Linked DNA regions of Homo sapiens: region 1 is linked to region 2. Evidence: fine-mapped expression QTL. A gene starts in region 2. The other region holds a variant in brackets. All regions are shown on one strand. Distances are from middle to middle. Region 1 holds the start of LOC124903726 (a long non-coding RNA gene). Region 2 holds the start of MON1B (MON1 vesicular trafficking associated B).

Region 1 (9,928 bases), 22 kb after region 2:
TAGAGGAGGTCTTGGGCAAAAAGCAAGGTATTTACCAGTTGCTGTGTCTTCCTTATTCTACTCTTCCACCCCACAAAAGTCTATGCTCCTCAGAGCAGCCAGAGGAATCCCACTGAAACCTAAGGCAGGGTGCTTCCCTCTCTGCACAGATCTCTTCCTGGATTGCTACATCACTTGGAGTAAACACCCAAGTCCTCACAGTGCCCTCCAATGCCTGACATGATGTGGGGCCTATTACCTCTGGCCAACCCTGACTCCCCAAGAGCTCTCAAAGGGTCCCCTTGGTTCCTTCCCCACAGAGGCACTGAGGATCCTCCAGATGCACTGCCAAGAGAAGGAAAGCGAGGCTCAGAGGTAAGAGGCCCTGCCTCAGCTCTTCCCTACCTCATTCCCCAGCTGAAAAAGGAGGGAGCAAGAGCTGTGGAAATGAATCTTGGACACAGAAGCCTCATTTTACCTTTCTATAAAATAGAGCAGCCTGACAAAAGATTTCCTTGGTTATCTCTGATATTAAATGGTCGTGTTAAGATTAATTTACTCATTTAATTATTCGTTACTAATTTCTTTATCAAATATATTCCCTCCATTGGTCTTAGCCTCAGTCTTTTTCTGTTGGCTATCCAGCTCCTTTGATATCCATTCACTTGCTTATTTGCCTCCTTATTTTAAGCCCCAGTCATCCATTTGCCCACCCATTCATCTATCCACCCATCTAGCCATTCACCTACTCACTCATTCATCCATTCATCCATCTATCCAACCATGTCATCCAGCCAGATGGCTGTTTTATCTCCGGCCTTCCACCTAACAATCTTCCATCCATCCAATCATGCATTCATCCTCTCTTTATTCTTTCCATCATATATTCACTTAGCCAAACATCCATCCAGACATCTACCCTTCCTTTTAGCAATCCTTTCTTTCTCTGTCCAGCCACTATTCCTCTACTCATCATTTCTCCAATCAGCTATCATTTCTCCAGCCAGCAACTCACACATCCAGTCAACTGTCTATCCAACCTGTATCCATCCATCTCTTCATCCTCCCGAGTAGCTGAGATTACAGGCATGTGCCACCATGCCCGGCTAATTTTGTGTTTTTAGTAGAGATGGGGTTTCTCCATGTTGGTCAGGCTGGTCTCGAACTCTCGACCTTAGGTGATCCTGCCCACCTTGGCCTCCCAAAGTGCTGGGATTACAGGCGTGAGCTACCACACCCGACATCTTCTGAACTTTTACCTAGCACACTCCTGTTACCAGAGGTCTCTCATCCTGGTGCACCATGATTTTAATTGCATGGGGAAACCTGATGTTAGCTAATGTGTGATACTCAACCACACTACTCACACTGTATGATGAGCATTTATGCTCATTTATGTACCTAATCCTCACAATGATAATTATAGGAGTTAAGGCTAATGTCACCCTCCCATCACTACCACCATTTTACATATTAGGAAACTGAGACCCAGAGAGGTTAAGTAACTTGGCCAGGGTCTCGGTGAAGTAACAGATTAGGGTTCAAGCCAGGATGTTATAGAATCTGTGGTGCCAAATTACCACACGCCTCACAAAGCTTTCTTGGGAAGGCAGAGTTCATTCCATGGGGGACAGGATGGACAGGGTAATGTTCTCAACAGAGGCCCATGAAGGTTCTCATTCAACAGGAGAAACAAGAAAGGTGAATGCTGTGAACAGACATCCCAACTCCCACTCCTGCTGGAGTGAATGATGGGTCATTCAGAGAATATGACTGAGGGTTGTCTTTCCCTTCCCAGGAAGCACATGCTGCAAGAGTGCATGGAACAAATTTTTGCCCATAATTCTCAGGTTTCAGAGTCTCAAACAGAGGAATCTGGGGTAACTCCCAAGCCTGGGGCCTGGCAGGCCACTGTGTAGAAAGTGGGAACAGGGCTTGCATCAGGGAGAGTTTGTTGGAAGAGGTGCTACGGGAACCAAAGCTTAGAGGATAAAACCCATGAAGGGGCTCCCAGCAGAGGGAGCATGGGCAGGATCTGAAGGCCTGTGCATGAGGAGCCCCCAACAGGGTGTCAGGCCTAGCATGTGTTCTCTTATTCCTGGGTGTCGGCCTCCAGGTTGGATGTCAGAGGACAGCTGGAGGATCTGATGGGCCAGCACAAGGACCTCTGGGAATTCCACGTGAGCCATTATCATTGCCTGCAACCAAAGCCACTCCTCCCTGGCTTTAGTGTCGCACTGACTGGCCCAGAGTCCACCCCTGCCCAGGCTCAATGCCGCGGGATAGTCCTTGATTCCTTGCTTCCGCTTGCCCACCTATTCAGTCCCTCAGCTTTTATCTAAAATCAACTTACGCCTCACCATGCCCCACTGCCACACCCAGCATCACCTGCCCAGACGGGTGCAGTACCATTGTGATCCTGCTTTCCCCCTGCTCATCTAGTGTATGTTCACCTTGCAGTGGCAAATGGCAGCCCAGGGAAAGCCATGGTCAGGTCATTCCTTCATTTAGCTAATGTCAGTGGTTGCACCGGTCAGCATTTGAGGCAGGGAGGGAGGGTAGCAGATCAAAGAGTCCACGTCTTTGCTGTCCCAAGCTGGTTGGGGACGGTGGAGGCACCAAGAAAGTTAGTGGCTAGATCGTGGAACTTCAGTGGGAAGGCCTCTAAGCAAGTGACATCTCAACGCAGAGGTGAAGGAAGTGAGGGAAGAAGCCGTGCAGGTATCGGTGCAGAAGGAAGGCCCTGGGGCTGGACGGTGCCTGAAACCGTTGAGGAGCCGCAGATTGGGGAATGGAGGATGAGGAGAGTGGGAAGAGTTCAAGTTTGAGAGGTGCCTGGAGACATGGAGAGCGTTTAGGGGGAGGTGGGTGGGTCTCCAGCCACAGCAGGAACTGCACATTGAGTTAATAAATAGTTGAATGAATGAATGACCTAATGTAGGTGAAGACTTCGCGAGAAGCACAAAAGGGGAGGGGCGGGCCGTGTAGCCAAGAGGACGGCCAAACGGGGAGGCCTCCTCTTTGTCCTCGCAGATGCTGGAGCAGCGACTGGCCCGGGAGATCCGTGCCCTGGAGAGAAGCAAGGAGCAGCTGCTCTCGGAGAGTGAGCCTCCCGCGCCAGGTGGGCGGGGGGAGGGGGATGTGCCCGGGCCTCGGCCCTGCCCCTGACGCCCGCCCACCGACAGGGAGGCTGGTGCGCGCCAAGCTGCGGGAGGTGGAGCGGCGGCTGCACTCGCCGCCTGAGGTCGAGGGCGCCATGGCGGTGAATGACGGGTGAGAGGGGAAGGGAGGAGTGGGCGAGGAGGGCAGGGGCAGGGCGGAGGGGAACCCGCCCAGGTCCCCCGCTCCGCCCCCGACTGCCGCTTCCCCGGCCTGTGCCTCCCTCGGCGTCGTCGGGTCTCCGCGTCTCGGTGGCTTCCTCCTCGTCCCCTGGACTCTCGCTCTCTTCCTCCTGTCTCCTCGGCCCCTTCTCCGCAGGCTGAAGGCGGAGCTGGAGATATTCGGGGAGCAGGTCCGGAGCGCCCCCGAGGTCGGGGCCGGCGAGGGAGAGGTAGGGAGCCCGAGGAAGGGAGGCGGGGCGGGCAGGGACCGAGTCAGGAGAGAGCGGGCGGGGGTCCTGGGAGCGGCCCCCGAGAGTGGGGTCTGTGGGGAGCAGGGCGGCCCCGGGGACAGAGGAAGCCGCGGTGGAGGCCTAGGGCAGACGCGGGCGGACGCGAGGAGCGTAGGAACCTGGTCCGCAGCCTCACCCAGCCCCCGGCAGGCCGGACCTGAGCTCCCCCGCGCTCGCGACGAGGAGGATCCCGAGCCGCCGGTGGCTGCCCCTGACGCCCTCTAGGCCAGCAGGACCCGCCCGTTCCCGACCTTCCCTCGAGACCCGCCAAGAAATAAAGGCGATGATTTCCGACCATGCTCGCGTTCTCCGCGGAGTCTGTGCTACACCGTGGAGCGGGGCGGGGCGTGCTGGGATCTCGAGGCGGGGCCTCTGCCGGACCCCTCCCACCAGTCGAGCCCCGGGCGCCGTACAGAGGCTGGGTAAATGCTCCTGAACTCAGAGAGAGTAAGTGGGTGTCAGTATCCCCCGCCCCACGGCCTCATCTCGAGTTCCCAAACCATCTATGTTGTCAACAGGGGCCGGAGGGCAGGTGTTAACCCATTCCGGTCCTCGGGGCCTGTGCGTCTCCGGTGGTCTCAGGAAACCCAGAGTCTCTGCAAGACCCGCAGACTCGCGCTGGCTCTGGGACATGCCCGCCCATCTGAGCTCCCCTCACAAATTGGGTTCTAGCCAAGGCTGCCTCTCCACCCGTCTCAAACATTCCAAAACACGTGTCCCCTCGGGGCCTTCGCCCTACTGGTCCTTCTCTGGGGTCACATCCCCCAGGCAACCTCAGATCTGTTAAATGTGTCCGCCACTCTGGAGGCCGGCATTTGGGACCCAAATCCAAAGGCACCCAGCAGCAGGCTGCGGCCATTGACTGAGCATGTACTGACTAAGCAGGCATTTGCCGATTGCCTGCTGGGTACCAGGCACTGTTCTAAGCACTGGATTTTAAACAGCGCGGTCAGCGACGGCCTCACCTAGGAAGTGGTATCTGAGCGGAGAAGCGAGGTAGAGAAGCGAGGGGGTGAGCCCTGTGGGTGTCTGGGGAAAGGTGGGCCTGGCAGAAGACATGCCTCATGCCAAGGCGGGAGGTGAGGCTGCACTTCGCTGTGTTTGAGGAGACGTCTGGAGAAGGCCGGCGTGGTAGAGTGGAATGAGGTAGAGTGGGATGGGAGACGACACTGGAGAGTTGCCAAGGACCAGTCAAGTTGGACACTATCTAATGTGTGTAGAAGAGGACCTGGCACACAGTCAGTATTCAGTGAATGCCAGCTCTCACATATTGTTGGGATGATTCACTATTCCCAGTCCCTAGAGAATGGGAACTGAGATGTGTGACTCACTTAGATCAGAGGCTTCTGTCCATTAAGTGATCAGTAAGTGGTTCATATGATTTATTATTATTATTCCCAGGCTACAGATGAGGAACACTAAGGTGTGTATATCTCTCAGAACAGAGATTTTTATAACATAAATGCTCAATAAATGGTATCTATCATTTATTATTCTCACTGCTATTCTTGCTGTTATTCCCAATTTAGCGATGAGGAAAATTGAGATAGTGAATCTGTACAGTAAGCCCTCAATAAACGTTGGGTCTCACGTTTGTTGCCATTATTATCCCAAGTCCACAGATGAGGCCCAGGGAGCTTTAGTCCCCGAGTCACCACTCGCATCCGGGCAGAGCTGACTCCAGGCCCAGGCTGTGGTCCCCTGCCCCACTGACACCACCTACTTGCTAAGGCCAGTCTCCAGGAATCTCTAAGGAACTTCAGTATCCTCTTTGTCATCCTCTCTGTGTCACACAAATGGGGTCAGCCTGGATATTCTGCCGATTTACCACTGGGCACCTAGGATTCGAGTCCTGGTTTCCCTGTTCACCAGCTGGATGACCTCAGGCAAATTGCTTAATGTCTCTAAAACGCAGTGACCAGCTGGGTGCTGTGGCTCACGCCTGTAATCCCAGCACTCTGGGAGGCTGAGGCGGGTGGATCACGAGGTCAGGAGTTCAAGACCAGCCTTGCCAAGATGGTGACACCCCTTGGTTTGGTGGTGGCAGGTGTCTGGAATCCTAGCTACTCAGGAGGCTGTGGCAGAGAATTGCTTGAACCCGGAAGGCGGAGGTTGCAGTGAGCCAAGATGGCGCCACTACACTCCAGCCTGGGCGACAGAGCGAGACTTTGGCTTTTGATTTGCCCTGTGTTCTCCTGACTCAACTGACCTTCCTGGCAGGGCTACTTCTCCTTTCATTGAAATAATTGACAGCTGCCTGGGAAGTCTTCACTCACTTCCTGTAACAGCTTTTCTCAGGGCTTGCATTCAATTACCATAATTCTCAAGCTTCTTGGCTTGTAGTTCAGGTTCAAATGTGAATGAGCCTGGGGGAGCTCAGTGTTGCCAAAAGGCGGAAGGACATTCTTTTTATTATTATTATTATTTTTATTTATTTATTTATTTATTTTTGAGACGGAGTCTCGCTCTGTCGCCCAGGCT[G/A]GAGTGCAGTGGCGCCATCTCGGCTCACTGCAAGCTCCGGCTCCCAGGTTCACGCCATTGTCCTGCCTCAGCCTCCAGAGTAGCTGGGACTACAGGTGCCCGCTACCACACCCGGCTAATGTTTTTCTGTATTTTTAGTAGAGACGGGGTTTTACCGTGTTATCCAGGATGGTCTCGATCTCCTGCCCTCGTGATCCGCCCGCCTCGGCCTCCCAGAATGCTGGGATTACAGGCGTGAGCAACCGCACCCGGCCAGGACATTCTTGAAAAAAGTAAGCCAGAAAGAAACCCACTGAAAAACAGAGGAGTCAGAGGAGGGGCCCGAAGAGATGCAAACATAGCACATCCTGAGTAGCAAGCTAGACAAGGCATGGAAGAGAGAGTGGCCAAAGTGACTGCAGTAGAATCTCCCGGAGGATAATAATATTACTACCTAATAGAGCACACTAGTTAGCAGAACAGAACCCAGGGCCAGACTGTGTTTGTTAGAATCCCAGCTCTGCTGCATACTAGCTGTGTAACTTCAGGTTACACAGTTAGGTTACTTAAATTCCCTTTTTTTTTTTTTTTTTGAGATGGAGTTTCATTCTTGTTGCCTAGGCTGGAGTGCAATGGCGAGATCACGGCTCACTGCAACCTCCACCTCCTGAGTTCAAGGGATTCTCCTGCCTCACCCTCCCGAGTCACTGGGATTACAGGCGCCCACCTCCACACCCAGCTAATTTTCGTATTTTTAGTAGTGACGGGGTTTCACCATGTTGGCCAGGCTGGTCTCAAACTCCTGACCTCAAGTGATCCACCCGCCTTGGCCTCCCAAAGTGCTGGGATTACAGGCGTGAGCCACCCTGACTGGCCGTTCATAAAGTTTTGAGGACATGTAGCATGTTACGTTTCAGAGAATCAAAGGCATCCACCATTTCTTTTTTGATCTCTCAATTTTGTGTTCATTTAGATTTCAGACAGCAATCAAAACATCAAGTACAGGTGAATACAATCCCAGGCCACCTTTTCCTGGGAACCTGGATATTGAGCTCTTACTTTTCTCCATTCTAGGATCTTGTTAAGCAGTGATGCTAACCAGTGAGTAGAACAGTGAGAGGTCCGTGCATATTCTATTTGCTGATCTACCAGCTGTTTTAAGGGACTGGTCAGTGGCAGAATTAACATATTTGCCATACCTACAAAATTCACAAGTACCTAGACTTCATTTTCCATTTTCCTACAAAACTCAAACTCTGTTTTTGTGACCTATTACTCACCGTAATCCTACCCAGCATCTTTCTCATTGGAATCTTGAGTAACATTTACCCAAAGATTACATTAGTTCCATTCTTCTTCCTTTCATTATCAAGTCATTATTAGATGGAGATGATTTGAATAGCCTAGGTGCCTGTTTTTTGTCTTGTAGTCCTTCCTTGGTGTTAACTCTGAAATTAATTTATCTCTTTTTTTATTTTTATTTATTTATTTTTTGAGATGGACTCTCACTCTGTCGCCCAGGCTAGAGTGCAGTGGCACAATCTCGGCTCCCTGCAACCTCCACCTCCCGGGTTCAAGCGATTCTCCTGTCTCAGCCACCCAAGTAGCTGGGACTACAGGTGCCCACCAACACGCCCGGCTAATTTTTGTAGTTTTAGTAGACACAGGGTTTCACCATATTGGCCAGGCTGGTCTCAAACTCCTGACTTCAAATGATCCACCCACCTTGGCCTCCCAAAGTGCTGGGATTATAGGCGTGAGTCACCATGCCCTGCTAAAATTAATTGATTTCTTCCAAGTGTGTGCAGTCATGTTTTACTTCTGTGATCAGACCTATTTAAGAGTTATAAAGATTCCTTCCAATTGTATCTTATGAAAGCCAGTAGGCATTTAATGACCTTCTTTTCTGGAGTCATTGTCTTTATATTTTGTGCCTCATTTTTGGAAAGCCTGTTTTACTTTCCGTGTGTCTTCTTATTTCTAAAGTCTTATTAAACCTACATTATCTAAAATGCCCATTACCTATAAATTTCTCTTCCACTCTGAGATTAAATATCTTTCTCAGTGGTTACCTTTATATTTTTAGAACATTTTATTGTTTAAAAATCACAGTCAAAGCTTCAAAAAACATACACCCCAAAATATCCCAATTTCAGTATCCTACTACCCAGAGGAGAGCACATGGCTGTTCTTCCCCTTCTGGTGCCCACAGCACTAGCGAGGACCCTGCCCTGAAGAGACCACTTGCCCACCCTCCTGCCCACCATATGTTAAGTCACCGTTTCTAATACATTTATTTATTTATTTATTTATTTAGTAAGATGGAGTCTCGCTCTGTTGCCTAGGCTGGAGTACAGTGGTGCAGTCTCGGCGCACCGCAAGCCCTGCCTCCTGGGTTCAAGCAATTCTGTAGCAGCGTCCCGAGGAGCTGGGATTACAGGCACCCACCATCCCATCCAGCTAATTTTTGTATTTTTAATAGAGACGGGGTTTCACCATGTTGGCCAGGCTGGTCTCAAACTCCTGACCTCAGGTGATCCACCCACCTCAGCCTCCAAAAGTGCTGGGATTATAGGTGTGAGCCACTGCTCCCGGGCCCTAATGCTTTTATAATTTAGTTTATATTTGAACTATTTGGAATTTATTTTGTGTCTGTACATAATCTGGAGAGAATTTACTGAATAGCACATGTATCCCCCCAACTGCAATGCCATCCTCGCCATATACCAAATAATCATGTCTATTTTGGTCAATTTCTGAACTGTTTATTCTATTCCTTTATCTAGTTACCTATTTATACACAAATACCAAACTTTTTATTATTATACCCTTAAATAATATTATGAAACTCACTTGGTGAGACCTCCTCTATATTTTCCTACTGTTTCAGAATTTTTCAAGGGTAGTTTCTTTCCTATGCATACTCTAGAATCATATTGTCTATTTCCAAAAAAAAAAAAAAAACAAAAAAACAAAAAACCTGACTGGGCGCAGTGGCTCACAGCTGTAATCCCAGCACTTTGGTGGGCAGAGGCAGGCAGACTATGAGGTCAGGAAATCAAGACCATCCTGACTAACATGGTGAAACCCTGTCTCTACTAAAAATACAAAAAATTAGCTGGATGTGGTGGCACAAGCCTGTAGTCCCAGCTACTAGGGAGGCTGAGGCAGGAGAATCACTTGAACCCAGGAGGCGGAGGTTGCAGTGAGCAGAGATCACGCCACTGCACTCTAGCCTTGTGGCAGTGTGAGACTCTGTTTCAAAAAAAATTAAACAGCAGCAACAACAACAAAAAACCCCTATTATTATTTGATATTTGTATTGAATGAAATATATACATTAACATGCAGGAAATTAGTATCATTATATTGAGCCTTCTAAAGGAGAAAAGAGTCTGTTTTATCTGTTTAGTTTTTTTTTTTTTTTTTTTTGAGATAGCGTTTCACTCTTGTTGCCTAGGCTGGAGCGCAATGGTGTGATCTCAGTTGACCACAACCTCCGCCTCCCGGGTTCAAGCAATTCTCCTGCCTCAGCCTCCTGGGTAGCTGGGATTACAGGCATGCATCACCATGCCCAGCTAATTTTGTATTTTTAGAAGAGATAGGGTTTCTCCATGTTAGTCGGGCTGTTCTCCAACTCCCGACCTCAGGTGATCCGCCTGCCTTGGCCTCCCAAAGTGCGGGGATTACAGGCGTTAGTCACCGCACCTGGCCTAATTTTTATTTTATGTGTTCTTCTCCTCTGTATATCTCTTTGAATTCTATTTTACCTGATAATAATGTTGCTACAGTAATTTTTTTTTTTTGAGACTGAGTCTCACTCTGTTGCCCAGGTTGGAGTGCAGTGGCACTATCTCGGCTCACTGCAACCTCTGCCTC
Region 2 (9,928 bases):
TTTAGTAGAGACAGGGTTTCACCATGTTGGCCAGGCTGGTCTCGAACTCCTGACCTCAAGTGATCCACCCACCTCAACTTCCCAAAGTGCTGGGATTAGAGGCATGAGCCACCACGCCTGGCCCATTTATATTTTTACAGACCACATAATTACATTGAGATCTTGTAGTGAGCCTATATTTAGGCCCTGATGTTATATACAGTTGGACAATCTCTGTTTTAATTCTACTATTTATTTGTATTTAATGCAATTTTTAACATAGTTGAATTAGTGTCTTGCATCTTGCTGTTTGTTCTCTATTTGTCCAATCTGTTCTTTATTGTTTTGTTCCTCTTTTTCATCTTTCTTTTGGATGGCATACACTTAGTATTCCACTTTATCTCAACTCTTGGCCTATTATTTCTTTGGCATTAAATTTCTTTGGCATTTCTGTATTTTTTTCCCCATGTCAACAAAATGCTTCTTTCATTCCTCACAATATATCTTCAAATAATAATTCTTCATGTAAAATGTGAGAGCCTTAAAGTAATGTGCTATCATGTATAACTTCAGTCATTTGTGTTATTGCTGCCACACATTTTATTTCTACAAATATTATAAACCCCACAATACATCGGTTTTGCATTTAGATAAGTCAATTATATTCTTAAATGAGAAAATATACTTTACTATTTATCCACAATAGTAAAAGTCTTTTAGATTTTGGAAGCAACACATACCACATTTCAGTGTGTGACTTTGACTCATTTACAGAATTACCTGTAGATTTCAAGTGAGAAGAACAAAAGAAAGTGAGTTCAGACTGCAGGTTAAGCTAATCCACCACTTGGGGCTTATGATCCAGCAGACCCATAGATTGTCAAACTGTCCATGGCAAATAAGGATGCTCTACAGAGCATCTGGCAAGCAACAATAGGACAAAAAAAAAACACTACACAGATGTGTAAGATTTTGAAATAAATCTATCCTCTCTTCTGTAGTTAATGATTCTTCTTTTGAACAGGTTTGGGACCAGGCCTTGGTAAAGAATGAGCACCTAACTATGGGATGTCAGGTGATTGCACAGCCTGAGATTTCGATCATGGGCTGGGTGTTGGATACTCACCTAGCTATAAGGTTGGGTGCTTTATTTATTTATTTTATTAATATTATTATTATTATTTTTGAGATGGAGTTTCACTCTTTTGCCCAGGCCGGAGTGCAGTGGTGCAATCTTGGCTCTCTGCAACCTCTGCCTTCTGGTTTCAAGCGATTTTCCTGCCTCAGACTCCCAAGTAGCTGGAATTACAGGCACCTGCCATCACGCCCTGCTAATTTTTGTATTTTTAGTTTCACCATGTTGGCCAGGCTGGTCTCGAACTCCTGATCTTGTGATCTGCCCGCCTCGGCCTCCCAAAGTGCTGGAATTACAGGCATGAGCCACTGTACCCAGCCTGACATTGGACGCTTTATTATCAAACAGAAATGGTACGTAAGAGATCAAGCTCAGGCTTAACATGAGGGTCTAACTGAGTTCCTGTCCTTAAGTCCTAGGCAGTATTTTGTGTTTTCCTTTACGTCCTTTCTTAGACTCATCTGTAGCTTGGGATTACCTGGGACTTACACAGTGTCCATAAAGTCAGGAAGTATAAACATATATAATGTCACAAAGACATCTTTGATCTGTTAAAAAAACAAACAGAAAAAAACTCTGTGTCTGTGTGTGTGTCTACAATTTGTAAACACTCTGCAGTTCAAGCCATGAGCCATAACTTAAAATCTACTGGAGAGGTTTGTTGAGATATTTTTGGTCTTTGCTTTTCTGATTAAAAAAAAAAAAAGGCAGACACACCAGAGATGGCTCTATGTTCCTTCACTTGTTCCCATCTCTCATCTTTGATTGTAGAAATTGTTTAGAGTGGCAAATCATCAAACACGGAATGCTAATAAAGCTCCATAAACTTACGTCTGCAGTTTTGAAATCCAAAAAGCTCCAGAAAAATAATTTTTAAAAGCTCACTTGGAGGTAAAACCTGAACTAAACTAACATAAGACGGTTTAGTGTTTCTCTTACTGGGAGTAATAAAAAGTTTCACTCAGAAAAAATGAGTTTAGTTATCAGGTGTTTCCCAGTCCCTTGCTGGGCTCTATATAATACATGGCACATGCACCTAATTTCATTTCTAAAATCAGGAAAATGTGTGAATTTAAAACACATCTGGCACTAAGGGTTTCAGATAAGAGACTGTGTGACAATTGTTCTTAGTTCTGCCATTTTCCCTGGAAAACAATCTTTAAAGTTCACAGAGCACATCAGCAAGAATTTTTAAAAGGAGCCTAATTGTGATATGGTTTTGTTGAAATACAAGGCAGGTGTAAAAGGAAAATAAATCTCAGGACTCCAAAATTACTAAGCCAAAGGTAAAAGTCAAGCTGGGAACTGCATCAGGCAAACCTGCCTCCCAGTTTATCCCTAAATAAGATATTTACAAAGATAAAGCTACATACTTCCCTCATAATTTGCCCTCTAGGGATTCCTTGTGGGCTGCAAGATCTTTACCCTAAAACGGTTCTGTTGAATTTTACCCTGACAACGTAAATTGATAGTTTATCTTCACAGGTGCGAGACAAAGGAGCGAACCCCAAGTCATCCCTCTGCTCACCTGAAACAAATGCATATCTGATTGCTTCCTCTGAGGTAAAAATGCAGATTGACAAAGCTAGATGAAGGCGTAACTATTCCTCTACTCCCCTGATAAGGTTTGGATCTATGTTCCCACCGAAATCTGATGTCGAATGGTAATCCCCATTATTGAAGGTGGGGTCTGGTGGGAGTTGATCGGATCTTGGGGGTGAATCCTTCATGAATGGTTTAGCATCATCCTCTTGGTGACAGTGACTGAGGGAGTTATTGCGAGATCTGGTTGTTTAAAGTGTGTAGCCCTGGGCTGGGCATGATGGCTCACTCCTGTAATCCCAGCAATTTGGGAAGCTGAGGCGGGTGAATCACCTGAGGTCGGGAGTTCAAGACCAGCCTGGCCAACATGGCGAAACCCCATGTCTACTAAAAATACAAAAATTAGCCGGACGTGGTGGCGGGCACCTGTAATCCCAGCTACTCCAGAGGCTGAGGCAGGAGAATTGCTTGAACCCGGGAGACGGAGGCTGCAATGAGTCAATAACATTTTGCCATTGCACTCCAGCCTGGGTAACACAGCGAGATTAATAAATAAGTTTGCTTATGAGATGTTATTTTATTGTACTTTTTTACATGTTTATTATATATTATATACTTCTAAATGTATTAGGTAAATATATTTTGTATGCACATAAATTTATCCATTGTTTCTGTTATATAAATTTAATATTTATTACTTATCGATTACCTATTGTATATAAAGCACATGATGCTACACTGGTATTTGGAATTCATTACCCTAACTATACTGTAATTAAAATAATTATCCTAACTAGTACCAAAGGCTTCCCCTTAGCAATCACTCGAAGTGTGCCAGCACCTCCACTCACTTCACGTCAAGCGATTCCCATCATTGTTTCACTGATGGAGAAACCAAGGCCCAGGGCACTTGGGGCAAGGCGTTCAGGGGGCTTTCGGTCCGGAAGCAGCGTCGGGGCGGGAATTCGAACCCTGGGTTCCCACACTGGCCCGTGGCAGGGCCCCCAAGCCTTTTCCCAAACTGATCACAGAAAGTGACGACCCGTTCGCCCGGCGGACCGGGGGCGTCGGGCAGGTCCTGGTCCAAGTGAGTGCCCGCCCCTGCCCTGGGCTGGCAGAGTTCTTCCCCCAGCTGCAGGTAGACGTGGGAACCCGGCAGGGTACGGAGCTGCTGGCGCGGCACGCTGATTAGAAGCGGCGACTGCCCGTCAAGCATTCGCGCCTCTCCCCTCCCTTGACTTTCTTGGCAGGGTTAAGGGATAAGAGAAAGTGGAGTTGCCTCAGTTCTGGGAGAGCCCGTTTGTGGGTCCGGCACAGGTATCCATCGGGACTGACGCTGCAAAAGTCCTCTTGTGAAACAAGGAATAGGCTCGAGTCTTCGATTGGGTCGAGGGAGACGTCAATCAATGGATGGGCGTGTGCAAACGCAACACAACGCACAGTATTGGTTAGGATTTGGCGGGGGGAGTAGACAGCGGGGAAATGAGGCGGCTCATCTCGATTGGCCCAGAAAGAAGACGGTCGCGCCCTATGTACTCCGGGATTGGCTAGAGCGAGCCGCGTCCCCCCTCACGCCAACCACTGGTAAGCGAAGTGGGCCTCGCTCTCCCGGGTTAGCAGCCGTAGCCAGATCCGTTGAAAGGAGTGCAGAGAGGTCTCATTGCGCTCCCGAACAGACCTGACGTAGATCCGAAGTGGCCCGCGCCATCTCAACTATGAGGGGACACCCGTAGGCGGCGGGAGAGGGACGCCGCGAGGAGCCAATAAAGCTCCGCAACCGGAAGTGTCTTCTGGGAGGGGTCGTACCCGGAAGTGTGGCACCTCCCGGGCCGCACCCGGAAGTGTGATGCCACCGCCGCTACGGGGAAGTAATGGTATCCGGCCAATTGAGATTCGGAGTTAAAACAGGTGTTTGTATATCTCTATTTCCTGAGGCCCAGTAGAGTCTCCTCTTTTCGGAAAGTGTTGGAGGGGGGACGTATTTGGGCATGATTTTGGATGTCTCGTCCTATTGAAATCCGTGGGGAAATGAGCAGTAGGAGTGTGTCCAAGGGGGCCTGACTCTATAAAGGCTTTTCAGAAGTTTCTTTCACCGCCCGTCACCCTCGATTCCCCTCCCACTCAGGGATGTGCAGATGGAGGTCGGAGGAGACACTGCTGCCCCGGCCCCCGGGGGCGCGGAGGACTTGGAGGACACGCAGTTCCCCAGTGAGGAAGCTAGAGAAGGTGGAGGGGTTCACGCGGTCCCGCCGGATCCCGAAGACGAGGGCCTGGAGGAAACAGGTATGACTCCACTTAGTGGGGTCTTAAAAGGAATCCTTAGGGGTTGTCATTGTTGGACGGGGGAAGGGTCAGTGGGTGACCAGTAGGGAGTCTTGGGACTTAAGAGAAGTGGCTTAAACCATCGCCGGGTCAGGAGGAGGTCACTGTGGACACATGGTGTAGTTTACATCATTGAGGAAGTCATTGGCTGTCAACGGATGTTCACTGGGGGTTTGGTGTGAGTTTAGGTCATTGAGGAATCAAAAAGGGGGCTGTTAGGACCAAAGAGGGTCACTGAGGATTTAGAGTGTTTAGATCAAAGAATGCGCTGAAGAAAGTCAATAGACTCAACAGAGGAGGACTGTTGAGAAGTTAGTGTTTTTGAGGAGTAGGGTGTTATTTATTAAATAATAGAAGTGGGAAGGGGAATCAGTGGAGTTCGATGGGCACTCAGAGTATTTACATCATTGAAGTCACTTGTAGACTGTTGGGGAAGTCTTTAAGGGACCAAATGTTAGTGGATGTGTAAAGTTGTTCATTTGAGATTTAATGGAAGTCACTGAGAAGTCTGTGCCATTGATCACTTTGGAATTAGTGGATGTAAATGGAGTCATTGGGAAGGATCAGTGGACCTCACTGAGAATAAATGTGGATGGGGAGGTTGAGGACTTGGGAATTAATAGCAGGTAAGAGCAGTTATTAGGAGGGAGTAAAGATATTTGGGGACATGGGAGTGTCAGTGAATGTCAGTGACAGAATATGCAATTATTGGGATTTTATGGGAAAATTATTGAGACATAGTTGCACATGGATAATAATGGTTGTCATTGGGGGATGAATGGAAATCAATGGGAATAAATGGATGTGTCAGTAGGGGCTGTTGAAGTTGTGGGTTTTAGTGAATGTTAATGATGGTCATGGGTAGGGGCAATGGAAGTCATTAAAGTCTTGTGTGTTAGTGGATATTATGATGGTTACTGTAGGGAGGGGAGTGGATACCAATGAGATTGAAGGTGGTCAGGGGAGTGACTGAAGGTCTCTGAAGTGCTGGGTGTTAGTGGAGGTTAATGATGGTCATTGTTGGGGGTAGGGGGGAGTAGACATGGAGTAGAATAACTTGTGGATCAGGGCAGTCATGGAGGGTCATTGAAAAACCAGGTGTTAATGATTGTTAATGTGGGGTCATTGGGGTGTTTGTGAACCACAGTGGGAGTGAATAGTGGATTAGGGGAGTCCTAAATATCTGGGTGTTAGTGGATATTAACGACAGTCATTGGGAGAAATAGTGGACATTACCAAGAATATAAATGGGCAACCAGGAGAGTTAGTAGGGGTCATCAGGTATCAGTGGGCATCACTGATAGGGTAGTAGCGGGGGTTGGGGCATTCAAACAGTTAAGATATTAATAGATGTTAATGGTGGCCATTGGGTGAGCAGATATCAGGAGAAAAAATAGCGGTCAGAGGAGTTAATGGGGGATCATTGAAGATGAATAATCGTCATCCAGAGTCAATGGGGTGCTTTGAAGACTTTGGAATAACAGTGATTGAAAGGGAAGTAATTGGTCTGTAGGAACATAGCAAGTCCAGTGGAATAACAATGAGAATATGTTGGTTTATTAGGGTTTTAGGAAGTTCATTGGAACCTAAATGTTAGTGGAGATCATTGCGGGGTCCTAGGGCAGTCATCGGGTCATTGAGGGGCATAGGAGACACTTGGAGTTCTGCGTCAGCATGCAGGGGTCATGGAGGGGCTAGTAGATATTTGGTGGGTCCTTGGGGATGTGGGATTAGTTAGGAGTTCACATGCAGATGACCCACCAGGGGCTCCCTTTCAGGATCCAAGGACAAGGACCAGCCACCCAGCCCATCACCACCGCCCCAGTCAGAGGCCCTGTCAAGCACCTCTCGGCTCTGGAGTCCTGCAGCCCCTGAGAATAGTCCCACATGTAGCCCTGAGAGTAGCTCTGGAGGCCAGGGCGGGGACCCCAGTGATGAGGAGTGGCGCAGCCAGCGGAAGCATGTGTTTGTGCTGAGTGAGGCTGGCAAGCCCATCTACTCGCGGTATGGTAGTGTGGAGGCGCTGTCGGCTACCATGGGTGTAATGACCGCCCTGGTGTCCTTTGTGCAGAGTGCGGGAGATGCCATCCGTGCCATCTACGCTGGTGAGCAAACAGGTGGGAGGCAGAATGGGGGACAGTGACTGGGAATATGGCTGGCACGGGTAGGTCTGTCTGCCTCAGGCACTATCCAGCCAGCCAGGGTTGGGTCCATGTGTGTGGATGGTCAGCCAGAGCTCTGTCAGTGGCGGGAGGTGGGGGGGTTCATCTCTGTCTGGCCTGCTGGTTTCTTAGTGATTGACTTGCTGGGATCTCAGTGACTAGCTGGATACTTCTGTGTCACCTGAGAGGATAACTGTGGGGGCTGTGTGGTTGAGCTGTGTCTTTCTGGCTCTGTGTCAGCCCTTGTACCATCTCTACCCGCCTGCCCGTGGTCTTTGCTGTGTATCTAACCTACTTGTTCCTTTGTCCATCCCATCATGTCTCTGCAAATGTCCAGATTCCTCCAGCTTGTCCTTACCCCAGTCCAGGTGCCCACAGAGTGAGCATGTGGACTCGGGCCTGGTGTGTGTATGGTAGGAGAGGGCAGAAGAGCCCCACTGTCTCCCTCTGGTCATTCCTGATCCAGCTGTACCCCCCCTTCTTACCCCTTCCTTCCCTAGAGGACCACAAGCTGGTGTTCCTACAACAGGGCCCACTGTTGCTCGTGGCCATGTCACGGACTTCTCAGTCAGCAGCCCAGCTGCGGGGGGAGCTGCTAGCTGTGCACGCACAGATCGTGAGCACACTTACACGTGCAAGTGTCGCCCGCATCTTCGCACACAAGCAGAACTATGACCTCCGCCGCCTGCTGGCTGGTTCAGAGCGCACACTGGACCGACTTCTGGACAGTATGGAGCAGGACCCAGGAGCCCTGCTCCTGGGTGCCGTGCGCTGTGTGCCCCTTGCCCGCCCGCTGCGAGACGCACTAGGTGCGCTCCTCCGACGTTGCACAGCGCCTGGCCTGGCGCTGTCAGTGCTGGCAGTAGGCGGTCGACTTATAACAGCAGCCCAGGAGCGAAATGTGCTGGCCGAGTGCCGGCTGGACCCAGCTGACCTGCAGTTGCTGCTCGACTGGGTGGGTGCACCAGCCTTTGCGGCGGGTGAGGCTTGGGCACCTGTGTGCCTGCCCCGCTTCAACCCTGATGGTTTTTTCTACGCCTACGTGGCCCGCCTGGATGCTATGCCTGTCTGCCTGCTGCTGCTTGGCACCCAACGTGAAGCCTTCCATGCCATGGCCGCCTGCCGGCGCCTGGTTGAAGATGGGATGCATGCCCTTGGTGCCATGCGTGCCCTTGGGGAGGCTGCCAGCTTCTCTAATGCCTCATCAGCCAGTGCTCCTGCCTACAGCGTGCAGGCTGTCGGGGCGCCGGGCCTCCGGCACTTCCTGTATAAGCCGCTGGACATCCCTGACCACCACCGCCAACTGCCCCAGTTTACCAGGTAGGCCCTGACCCTAAGGCAACTGGCTGGGTGGGAAGGCCTGTCAAACCAGGAAGTTCAGCATCTCAGGGATGTGACTCAGGAGAGATAACCAGCCATGCTTAAGAAAGAGGGAAGAGAACAAGTCTCTGTCTGATGATGGAGCATCAGCCACAGACCTAAAGGAATCCCCCTCTTCTGGTGGACAGCAGGGCCCTAGTACTCAGGGAATCTCCTAGTTTGATGAGGGAAGGTCAGCCTCCAACCCCTGAGAATCCTCAAGTCTCATGGGAGAGGCTCAGCTCCCTAACTTCATTGAAATCTCTAGACTGAGGGAGGAAATGGGCCAGCCAAGAAGGCCCTGGACTAACCTTGTCCTCCACCTCCCTCCATCATGGCAGCCCTGAGCTAGAGGCCCCCTACAGCAGAGAGGAGGAGCGGCAGCGGCTGTCGGACCTGTACCACCGCCTGCATGCTCGTCTCCACAGCACCTCCCGACCCCTGCGCCTCATTTACCACGTGGCTGAGAAGGAGACACTACTGGCCTGGGTAAGTTGGGCAGGGCTCTGAGTGAATTAATTCCCCACTTCAAGCCTCCTTTCCCTATATTGTATCCCCTCCAGCCACAGTGCCTCCACCAAACACAGCAGGCCTCTGGCTGGGCTGTGCCTTGCCTGCAACACTGTCCCTGCCTTTACACACACATCTTTGAAGCCCCTGACAACTAATGACCGTGTCTCTAATCCGACATTAGCCTCACCCTCCTGTGTGCTTCTCCCAGATTAGCAACCAGGACAGTGTCTTTGACTTTCCAGAGGCCCCATTAACTACCACTGCTGTGCCTGCCGATTCCCCAGTAGCCCAATCCATGTGTTTGGAGGCACCCCATTCATCACCAGCTCATTGTGACTCCATGAGTCCCCAGCACTCCTCAGACTACAGGCGTGGTCCCTTGCTGTGCCCTCCACCTGGGGTATCCTTCCCTTTGGTCTCCTCTGGGCTCCAGCCCTCACTTCCTATGGGTTTGCTAAAGGTCAGCTACTAAGGGAGGCCAGTGAAGGAGGCCTCATCAGAAATGGCACCTGCCATGTAATGCATATTTATTAATTTATTGCGTGACTGCTGTGGATCAGGTATTGTCCTAGGCTAAGAATTTTGTTTTTAAATTTTTTTAACTTTCATTTTCAAATAACTTTAGACTTAGAAGCTGCAAAAACAATATAAAGAGTTTTTATATTTATATTTATAAAGAGTTATAAAGGGCGTGGTGAAAACCACGCCTGGTCAGATGGTGGTTTTCCTAACTCCATCATTCTTTCTACATTTATTGGCTGGGATTTTACTATAAAGAGTAACATGGGGCCGGACGTGATGGCTCACGCCTGTAATCCCAGCACTTTGGGAGGCTGAGGCAGGCTGATCACTTGAGGTCAGGAGTTCGAGACCAGCCTGGCAAACATGGCAAAACCCCGTCTCTACTAAAAATACA

Evidence for each region.
Region 1: its variant is fine-mapped to the expression of MON1B in coronary artery (GTEx, PIP 0.99). The same link has a PIP of 0.9 or more in anterior cingulate cortex and cerebral cortex.

Annotation. Positions count from the first base shown.
Region 1 is chr16:77,209,118-77,219,045 of GRCh38, forward strand. It overlaps SYCE1L (synaptonemal complex central element protein 1 like), which reads left to right. Exons shown (of 11, transcript NM_001129979.3): 5 at 1-27; 6 at 300-354; 7 at 2,096-2,159; 8 at 3,013-3,082; 9 at 3,165-3,252; 10 at 3,457-3,529; 11 at 3,740-4,098. The coding sequence ends at 3,814. It overlaps LOC124903726 (a long non-coding RNA gene), which reads right to left and starts at 3,014. Exons shown (of 2, transcript XR_007065121.1): 1 at 2,912-3,014; 2 at 2,470-2,814. RefSeq lists silencers at 3,014-3,373, 3,434-3,763, 3,874-3,963, 3,994-4,043 and an enhancer at 3,121-4,094. The variant G/A (reference allele first, on the strand shown) is at 6,071.
Region 2 is chr16:77,186,695-77,196,622 of GRCh38, forward strand. It overlaps MON1B (MON1 vesicular trafficking associated B), which reads left to right and starts at 4,496. Exons shown (of 6, transcript NM_014940.4): 1 at 4,496-4,564; 2 at 4,782-4,939; 3 at 6,757-7,083; 4 at 7,641-8,460; 5 at 8,841-8,988. The coding sequence starts at 4,792. It overlaps LOC124903725, which reads right to left and starts at 3,872. Exons shown (of 1, transcript XM_047435021.1): 1 at 3,214-3,872. The coding sequence starts at 3,872. The coding sequence ends at 3,528. RefSeq lists enhancers at 4,214-5,162, 4,288-4,577, 4,598-4,647.